Regions from separate parts of the Homo sapiens genome. Here region 1 is linked to region 2. The links come from fine-mapping of genetic effects on gene expression. Tissue or cell type: subcutaneous fat. Region 2 holds a variant in brackets; the other region holds the start of a gene. All regions are shown on one strand. Distances are from middle to middle.

Region 1 (5,220 bases), 27 kb before region 2:
TCCCATAAGTGTGTAAGCTACTGGGACTTAGTAGAAGCAGGCCGCTCCTCCTAAATGTGATTTGGACCATATGCTTTCTACATTCATTCCCGCTTCGGCTTTTCTTCTCTGCACTAACTGCTAACACGTTATAGTCACCTTGAAATTTCCTCTGCTATTTTCCAATTAAAAGCTTAATAGCCCTGGAAACGGAGTTCATGTGGTGAAGTTTACCACAGCCCCTTGTTCTGAAAGGCTTTCTGCTGGGATCCCATTATGTGCTTGAATAAACCCTTTCTGCAAACAGAAATGGGACTCGGGGTTGTCAGGTGTTGGGTTACAATAGACTTTGAGGCAGGGGACATTTTACCAACATAAATACAAACCTGTCCCTATAGGGAGATGTTGTCAAATACTGGGATATGGAAAACATTCCCATCAAATATGAGAAAAGGATTACTGCACTATATCAAATGAGTATTTAGATCTCAGCCCCCGATGTGCACCGGAGTGAAACGGGCCCCCGGGACCAAATGCCAGACTGTTTGAGTGGCAACGAGATAGGGTGGCTAGGTGACCGACGGGGGAAAAGGGGTCGCCTTGGTAGTGAAAGTGCCCCCACAAACCTGGTGCAGAGCTCTTCTGCTTTCCTTTTAAAAATTTATTCATACTCAAGTTCTTTATACTTCCTCGTTTCACTGTTTGAAGAAAATCGGAAGAAATTTGGTTTTGAAAAAAGTCGTTGGTCCCCACGTTTCCAAGAGATCCGGAGGTTTCAGCGCAATAGTTTTCAGTTAAGGTGTCATTTGAGGCCCTCTATATCGCAGCACGTTAAATGACTCGCGTCCAGCTCCCCATTTCCTAGCCTCGGGCCTACAGGGCTGGGGGCGACCTCTGCCTCCCGTCCCCAGAGCTTACAAAATTCCTTCCAGTTGTATTTTAGGGCTTGTTTTCCTAGAGAAGGTTGAGACTAGAGGAAGGATTAAAGTGGTGGGGGAAGGGGCAAGACCGAGGGGTCCCTACCCCACGCGGCTTTGGAGGATGGCCTCCCAGGGTTAGCACTCGAATGCTAGAGCTTCTTGTCCACACTCTACCAGGTCAGTGTCCCGCGATCCCCACCTCCCGGACGCGTATGAAACGGGAACAGCTAAGGGCTTCAAGGGAAACACACAACTGGGGTTCGGTTTTCAACCCTCCTCTCCGCAAATCAGCCTTCTGGGCAGAGGGTTGGCTGCTAGAACGCCTGGAGGTGCTTCCCTTGAATTCATGGCAAACACCAGAGGAAAGTTTTCAGGTTGCTTGCTTACTTCCAGGGCAGTACAGAGAAAAGCGGCCTCCCCGAGGGGACAAGGGCCTCTGTGCCCATGAGGGGTCGGACATTGCAGCGGACTTGCCTACGCTCTCATCTAGCATTTGATTCCCCACCAGGAGATGGGCTTGGTGCACGCTCTCAGAAGCGCATCCACCGAAGGCTCTGGAACTGCCCCGCTTCGCATAGAGCTATTGTGCTGCCCTGCAGTGTATCCACTTGTTTTGTTTGTTTGTTTGTTTTTTGGTTTTTGCTTGTTTGCTGATGGGCAGTGGGGAGGTGCGAGGGTGGAGGGCCTTCTTTGTGCATATATAGCGATAGTCTGCACTAGGCCAAGCCCGCTACTCCTGGGAGAATGGGAACACGCAAATAATCTAAACAAAGTTTTCTGCTGTCATCTTGTGAAGGACCCTCTCCCCCAAGACATCTATGACTGGGGTCTATGGGTTAAGGAGGTGAAAAAGTGGCCCCATCCCATATCCATAACTGAATCACAGAATCCGTGGGGATTTGAACTGAGTGGCTGGCGCAAGACCTCCGTTTGCTTCCAGTAGCTGCTGGGAGCGAGGGAAGAGGATATCGGTAACTTTGGGGGCGCCAATGTGGCTTCTGTGTCTGCCCCTTGAAAGTTTATACCCGGCGCTTAACAAATCCTTTACAGGAGCACGTACGTCCCTGACCTTTCAGGATACTGTTTTATATTAAAACATGGACAGGAGGGTAGAAAAGTAAAATTCGCCTGCAAAATGGCTTGTCATCCTTGGGCCGGCAGATCTCCAAAACCATTTTCTTCTAAAGCAACAAAAGAGAAAAAAATACGTTCTAAAAGGAAATTACGAAAAGAGCCTAACTTTCCTAAACCAACATCACTTCACTCCCCTATCCTAAACTCCACCCAGGTCCGGGGTGCAACCGCAACACTCCCGTAGGTTCGAGTTCTCCCGGAGCTGAGCTTCTGCGGCCAAATGTCGGGATAAAAGCGGCCTTGGGCTCGGAAAAACGCGGCCAGATCTGGACTGGAGGGAGGAGAAGAGAGAGAAGCGGAGCGGCCACCTCACTCGCTTACAGGCACCCCCACCCTCACTCCCGCTGGTCCTCCCCTTCTCCGCCCCGCGAGCACCGCCGCGTTCTGGAGCGCCGCAGTCTCCAGCCGCGGGCTGGGGTAGCGGAGAGGGCTTGGAGGAGGGGGCCGCGAGCGCCCCCGCGAGAGTGGCCTGGCTGCAGGTGGCAAGGAAGGTGAAGTGCAGGCACCCGAGGGGCGCAAAGGAGGAGGAAGGCGTGGGGCGGGGAGTGCAAGGAGACAGGGACCCCAGGGGCGGGGGTGGCGGTGGGAAGGAGGAGGGGTTGGGGGAGGGCGGCGGAGGTGTTGGGTCCGGCCGGCTCACGAGGGAGCTGCAGAAGAGCTGGCTCAGACCTTAATCAGAGCTGTCGCCGGCTCCTTGCAGCCGCCGCAGCGCCTCCGCGAAGGAGGACGTGCCGACCCGGCTGCGCGCCCAAGGCAGAGGCCCGCGTCGGCGTTGGCTGGGCGTGAGCTGGGAGGCCGAGCTGTGAGCGCGAAGGGAGCTGGAGAGACGACTGCGGCACCTCCGGCCGCCCCGGAGCACACACGACCACCGGGGCTGCGGGACCAAGGGCCGCGTCGCCCGGAGGCCGCCCCTGAGCGGGCCTCGCAGCCCCGCCGTCCAGCGCTCCCTGGCCCTCTCCCGCAGCCAGGCTGCCAACTCATTCGGGAGCCCGGGGCATGAACGGCTACGGCTCCCCCTACCTGTACATGGGCGGCCCGGTGTCGCAGCCGCCACGGGCGCCCCTGCAGCGCACGCCCAAGTGCGCGCGCTGCCGCAACCATGGCGTCCTGTCCTGGCTCAAGGGCCACAAGCGTTACTGCCGCTTCAAGGACTGCACCTGCGAGAAGTGCATCCTCATCATCGAGCGGCAGCGGGTCATGGCTGCGCAGGTGGCGCTGCGCCGGCAGCAGGCCAACGAGAGCTTGGAGAGCCTCATCCCCGACTCGCTGCGCGCTCTGCCAGGGCCCCCGCCGCCGGGGGACGCCGTCGCCGCCCCGCAGCCGCCGCCAGCCTCTCAGCCGTCGCAGCCGCAGCCGCCGCGCCCTGCTGCCGAGTTGGCCGCGGCCGCCGCGCTGCGTTGGACTGCCGAGCCGCAGCCCGGGGCTCTGCAGGCGCAGCTCGCCAAGCCAGGTAAGAGCGTCTGAGGTGCGGGAGTTTGGCCGGGCGCGGGGGCAACTTCGGAGTGCCAGCTGCAGCTCCACTTGGGAGGACTGGAGGCAAAGTTTTGGGACGTGGGCCTGTCGGGGCTTTCCTTCCTACTCTCCGCCAGGCCGGGGCTTCCTCTCCCGGGAGAAGCCGGCTGAGTCTGGACCCAGCGCGAGTGGCACTCGCGCCCGCAGGGAAGGCGCCTCCGGGCAGCCAAACGACGGGACTGTGCGTCAGTATCGCCAGGTGCCTTCCCAGGTTGAAGGGTTCGGAACGTGTCAGATTGAGCAGGGAGACAACGGAGTTGAGACAGGACAAAATTAAAACCCACGTGCGCACACTCACTACGGTGGGGTCGGATTTTCCTGGCTGCAGGCTTTAGAGGTCCTTGCCATTTGGGGGTTGGAATGGGTAGGTAGGTGTAGGGAAGGAGCCAAGGCCAACACTCGGCTGAGTCGAGCTGGCTGTGCTTCTCGGCCGGCCCGGCCCTGCCCAGGGCCCAGGAAAATTTGAGTGAGGACAAGTATCCAACTCTCAGAACCCTGGCCTTTCTAGCTTTGCTCCGTGGCCTCCAGACTCTTGTAACTGGTGAAATAAGTTCCATTTAGCAATGATAGTAAAAGGGTCCGGAAAGGCTTGTGAGCTGATAGCGGGAAAAGAATCTGATGCGCCCAGAATTCACTCCTTTGCAGAACCTCCTAGATCCTTTAACACTGTTCCCCAGGCTGCCCTCAGCTGTCTTCGTGGTTTAAAGGAATACAAAAAATCTGATCCCCCACCACCCATCCGTTTCCATCCAGGCCTCCTGAGCTTGGCAGGCCTGAGTTGAGTCTCTTAGTCTCTCTCTTCCTGGGGAATTTCTAGCTTGCGGTTCTGCCCAGCTCAAGAGCTCTTTTGATGGCTCTTGGAATTCAGTGGATATGTGTTTGGTGTTTCTCCTTAACTGGGGCAAATGTGCAAAGGAACACAGCCCACCTTCTCCCGGAAGGGGGCATGCTGGAATTAGGAGTGGGAAGGTCCAGAGCCCTCCTGTAAGTAGAACTGTGGCAAAACTGGTACCTACACTGACCTGCCAACTCCCTAAAGACGGTACCCCTAGCTTCGGAGAAAGGCTTTCAGGAGCCCAGGACTGCTTTGTCTGGATCCTGTGGAGCTGAGGAAGTGAGGCGGACTCACCTGTTTCATGGTGAGTCAACGGGTGACTGGCAGGTGGAGTTCTGCTGCCCTGTCTTTCCGCCATGCTTTCCAGGCCTGAAGCTCTGAGAACAGCCTGTGTGACAGTAGAGCTGGGAATTTTAAAGCCTGAAGAGAGTTTGCCGAACTTGGATTTTGTGGATATTTAATCCAAGTTAGCATATAAACGTTTCTCAGAAATGATCGCCAGTTGTCTCTCTTTTGTCTGTCTCATCTTTTTATATTTATGGATTTGTCACAGACGAAGAGGAGGGAGGAGAAAAAGGTTTTATTATTTTTCTCCCATAGGTTTGAACAAATAACAAGGAAGAGTTTGGTCTCAGCTCTAGAATTGGATTTGTACCAATATATTTTCTTAATTTTTTTCCATTTCCAGCTTCTCTGGTTCCGTTTCCCCCAGGACTAGGGCAGAGGCCTGAGTTAACATCAGAGGTTAACTCAGCAGCACTCCTGTGATCGGGCATTGGGTTCTGTGGTTTTTATCCAAGGAGATGCCTTTCACATCCTGTGTTCTTCAGAGTATTCTTT
Region 2 (5,220 bases):
TAATCAGTGAATAATTTTTTATCATAAGGATGTCCCAGGCTGAATTTGTATAGGTATATATTTTTATGTGTGTGTGTGTGTGTGTGTGTGTGTGTGTATATATATATATAACTATGTCCAGGGAATAGTATGTAAGTATAATATATAATACTGATACATGTAGCATATGATATAATACTTATATAATATTCCCTGGACATAATTATGCTCTACAATATATGTATGGCCTATACATACTTATACTAAAAAATTATCCATTGTTTATCCAAAGTTGAATTCAACTGGGCATCCTATGTTTTTGTTAGCTAAATCTTGTAACCCTACCGGAAGCGATGTGTCTGTGGTATGACTATAGCTGTCGCCTCGGTCATGTCCCTGCAGTTAAGAAAACAGGAAAGCTGAAGTGGTAACAAAATGGGCTGAAGGCCTAATCCAGCCCTCAGGTGTATTTTGTTTGATTAGTACAGAGTTTTTGTTTTCATTTTCAAGTAATTGCCAACATTGAAAAATCCAGAGATCTCACGTATGCACCGAGTGTTTAGGCATTTCTGGAAAAGGTGGAAGATCTGTCAATATCGTATGGAAACAAATTAGATGTTCCCTGTCTTGGTCTCACTCATTTGTGCTTCTTTCCTGTAGCTGAATTTGGGACAGATCCATGTAGGGTATTCAATTCCCTAAAATTTTCCCTAGAACAGGGAGGAACTTTTTTTGGGGTGCTGGAATCCCTGAGTGCCTGTTGAGCCTGACCAGGCTGATCTAAAGCAGGAGGGCTCTTTACCCCTCACCCTCGACGTCTGACCTGGAGACTTGCTCCTTATAAGGCTTACATGTGACCTGGGACAGGTCCCTTGCTTCTCCCAGGGTCTCTATTTTCATCCCTAAAACAAGGGGACAACTATCCATGTTTCCCAACTTTTTTGTACCAAAAGTTCTGTTTTGTCAACCTTATGCCACTGTGGTTCCAGTTTTTGCTTGTTTGTTTGTTTTATAGAATGGTTCACAAATTTGTGAGTCATCCTTGCTCAGGGCCACGCTAATGTTCTCTCTGTCATTCCGATTTTGGTATGTGTGCTGCTGAAGCGAGCACATGGACCCGATGTTTTCAAAGATCTGTCTACCCAAGCAAATGACATATGTTACAAACAGCCTGTAAGTTCTGGCCTGCCTGAAAGCTAACTGGTTTCATCACACCACATGGGTCAAATTCCCTCTAAAAGCAAAACCATTTTGTAAGCTCCTGTAACCTTGCTGAAAATAGGAATGCCTTTAAAGCCAGTAAGGGCTGGGTGGGGTAGCCTAGGTTACACTTCACTAACACACTCCAAAATTTCAGTGGTTTAACACATAAAGGTTTATTTTAAAACTTTAACCCGTGCAGAATCTGCCATGGGTTTGGCAGCTCTTTAGGCAGTGACACAAGAATTGTTTCCTTTTTTTTTTTGAGACAGAATCTCACTCTGTCGCCTAGGCTGGAGTGCTGTGGCATGATCTCGGCTCACAGCAACTTCCGCTTCCCAGGTTCAAATGATTCTCCTGCCTCAGCCTGCTGAGTAGCTGGGATTACAGGCATGCACCACCATACCTGGCTAGTTTTTTATAGTTTTAGTAGAGACGGGGTTTCACCATGTTGGACAGGCTGGTCTTGAACTCCTGACCTTGGGCGATCTGCCCTCCCAAAATGCTGGGATTACAGCCACTCTGGCTTTAGTTTCCTTCTTTACTGTGGCTTGACCATTTCCACACGTGGTTTTCCTGGCAGGGGAGGGTGTGCTGGTGGGCTTTCCAGGGCCTCACCTCTGCTCACATTTCATTGGCTGGATCCAGTGCCATGGCTTCACTTAGAGGAAAGGGCTAGGAGGTAGAGTTTTCTGCATGCCTGGGAAGCTGTGGAGAAAAGCATACAATGAAACTAAGAGGTGACACCACAGGGACATGAGCCCTTTCAGTTCCAAAATCCTACATTCTGTCATTCTTCAGAGTGGTCACATGGTGTGGTCTGTAGATACACTGGCTTGACCTTTAAGATGACTGACTGCTGTCAAGCAGAACAGATGCTACAGATATGTTGAGCTTTAAGTAGTTCCAAATCCTATGTTTCCTTCCTGATGATAATAGCTTTTTTTTTTTTTTTTTTAGACAGAGTTTCGCTCTTGTCACCCAGGCTGGAGTGCAATGGCTCGATCTCTGCTCACTGCAACCTCTGCCTCCCAGGTTCAAGCAATTCTCCTGCCTCAGCCTCCCAAGGAGCTGGGATTATGAGCGCCCAACACCACACCCAGCTAATTTTTATACTTTTAGTAGAGATGGGGTTTCACCATGTTGGCCAGGCTGATCTCAAACTCCTGACCTCAGGTGACCCGCCTACCTCGGCCTCCCAAAGCGCTGGGATTACAGGTGTGAGCCATCATGCCGGCCACAGCTAACTTTTATTTTGTGTGCGTGTATCGACTCAACTTATCTTCACAGCAGCCCTAAAAGGTAGGTACGTTTTTTATTGCTCCTGTACTATTTTTTTTTAACAGGAACTGTTTCATAGATTTTAAAAACAGGCTCTGTCTTCACTTGAACAGATATATTTGAAAAATGAACTCGAGTCCACTGTGTGCTGTTTCAGTGATGCATTCTTGATACATGCATTTTCCCAGCAGAAGGCCCAGAATCACTAACACGCTGCTTCAGGGTCACACAGTTGCTGTGGGGAGCTGGATTTCCCCCTGAGAGTCACATCCGAGAGCCCATCTTGGGCTGACACTGGGG[C/T]CATTAGGCTCAGGGGCCCTGACATGCCCAGCCTCCAGAGTCTGCTCCTCAGGATTTCAGAGACCAGCTCATCAGGACAGTGAAGCCTGAGTGTAAGATGAAACTGGCCTTAATTTGACCAGCTATAGTAAGTTGGCTTTAATTGGATGTGAAATATTTTGCCCCTACAGGGAAATTTAACTGTGTTTTTTTTCTTTTTGCCATTTAGTGGCCCACGTTCCAGTGGGTACAATTTCCAACTCCCAGTCCCAGACTAGCCCCTAATTAAAATATGATGTTTTCTTTTCAAGCTTGGTTTGAAAGTCAACCGACAGTTTTTTGTTTTCTGTTGTTAGGAAATTGTTTTTATTTTTTGAAAAGGTCAGGGATTTACAGAGCTCCAAAGTAAAAAGACATAAAAAGGTTTACAGGGAAAATTCTCCCTCCTCCGAGCTACCTGAGTGCAACCAATGTTTAGTGTCTTGGGCATCCTTCCAGAAATATTTTATTTTTAATTTTCTTTTTACAAACAAGGCAGCGCTCTGTCACCCAGGCTAGAGTGCAGTGGTATGATCACGGCTCACTGCAGCCTTGACCTCCCCAGGCTCAAGTGATCCTCCTAATTTTAGCTTCACTAGTAGCTGGGACTATAGGCACACGCCACCATGCCCAGCTAATTTTTGTTCTATATTTTATGTTATTTTTTTGTAGAGACAGGATCCTACCATGTTGTCCAGGCTGGTTTTGAACTCCTGGACTTAAGTGATCCTCCTGCTTCAACCTCCCAAAGCGTTGGGATTACAGGCATAAGCCACTATGCGCAGCCCTTCCAGATATATTTTATGCACATGCAAGCATAAGTATTCTTTTTTCATTTTCTTTAAACATTATTTATAGTATACTATATACACAGTTGTTTTACCTTGCCTTTTTTTTTCTGTCCACTTACTATGTTTTGGAGATAGCTAAATATAATTATAAAGATAGTTTCTTCATTTAAAAATTTAAATTTAAATTAAAATTTTATTTAAAATAAAAATTTTAAAAATTACATAGTATTTGGCTGTTCCATAGTTTATTTAGCAGTCCCCTTCTGGTAAGTATGTTAAGTTTTGAAGTCATCTACTATTAAACGATTTAGTAATAAATAACTTTAGACCAATGTGATTTGAATTGGGAGCAAGTATAAGTTGCATGAATTGATGAAAGAGGAATTCCTGCAGCAAAGCGTACATGCATTGGTAATTTTACTAGATACTGCCAATTTGTCCCCTTATAGGTATTTTTCCAGTTTATACTCCCACCAATAAAGTACAAGAATGTCAGTTGCCCCACATCCCCAGTGAGTGTGTTTTCAGTTGTGATTTCCCACAACTTGAAAATCTCAGTATGCTTTCATTTGCATTCTCTTCTTATGAATGGAGGTGAGCTTTTCGTATGATGCCATCTGCATCAACAGCCATCTCTTTCTCGGAGTGCTGGAAGAACACTTGCCCTTGAACAGGTCTGTGACCCAAGCTCAAAGCTGGCAGAACCCATCGCAGCTTAACCACCAGGGTTTGTAGCTGAATGTCTTATGCAAGGAAGTGGTTGGTTTCTGCAGTGTGTTCTCATTAGAAATGCTTGGTCACTGAAACCAATCCTAACCAGGCTGATGGCGCCATCTATCTTTCTGAGATGGGTAAATGGAATGCAATGCAGTTTTACAAGCGGGATATTTGGGACCTGACATGGATGATTTCAGGGACCTGACCCTGATGATGAGCTCTGCCAGGGGCTGTGGATGCGTTCCATCAAAGCTGAAAATATCATCAACTTATTGAATTGTCTTTTGTCCTACTTGATGTCACTGAAGTGAGCATGTCTTTTTGATTTTTAAAAAATGTTTGGCCAGGTGTAGTGGCTCACGCCTGTAATCCGAGCACTTAGGAAGGTCGAGGCAGATGGATTGCTTGTGCCTAGGAGTTCCAGACTAGTCTGGACTACATGGAGAAACCCCGTCTCTACAAAACAATACACACAAAAAATTAGCCAGGTGTGGTGGCAAGAACCTGTAGTCCCAGCTACTTGGGAGGCTAAGGTGGGAGGATCACCTGAGCCCAGGGAGGTTGAAGCTGCAGTGAGCCGTGACTGCACCACTGCACTCTGGCCTGGGTGACGCAGTGAGACCCTGTCTCAAAAAACAAACAAAACAAAACTTTATTATTAAAAAAATAAAAGGCCCACATATATAGAGAATAGTGAAATGAACCCTAATCTACACATCACCAACATTAAGCAGTTACGAAGACTACACGACACTTGACCCATCCATCCCATTTCCTGTTTCTTCCTTTTGGATGAGGTAAGTAGTCTTTAAAGCAAATAATGTCATTTCACCCTTATGTACTTCAGTAAACATCTCTAAAAATGGGCATAGTCATATATAATTACAATGCCATGATCAGATCTGACAAAATTAAAAGTAATTCATTGGTATCA

What was found. PIP is the estimated chance that this variant, and not a neighbour inherited with it, causes the effect.
Region 1: DMRT3 starts here. The variant in region 2 is fine-mapped to the expression of DMRT3 in subcutaneous fat (GTEx, PIP 0.98).

The regions. Positions count from the first base shown.
Region 1 is chr9:973,973-979,192 of GRCh38, forward strand. DMRT3 (doublesex and mab-3 related transcription factor 3) reads left to right here and starts at 2,683. Exons shown (of 2, transcript NM_021240.4): 1 at 2,683-3,483. The coding sequence starts at 3,030. RefSeq lists enhancers at 1-1,316, 1,849-2,350, 2,351-2,850.
Region 2 is chr9:1,000,874-1,006,093 of GRCh38, forward strand. It overlaps the pseudogene RNU6-1073P. Among named protein-coding and RNA genes, the nearest start is that of DMRT3, 27 kb to the left of the region's middle. The variant C/T (reference allele first, on the strand shown) is at 2,761.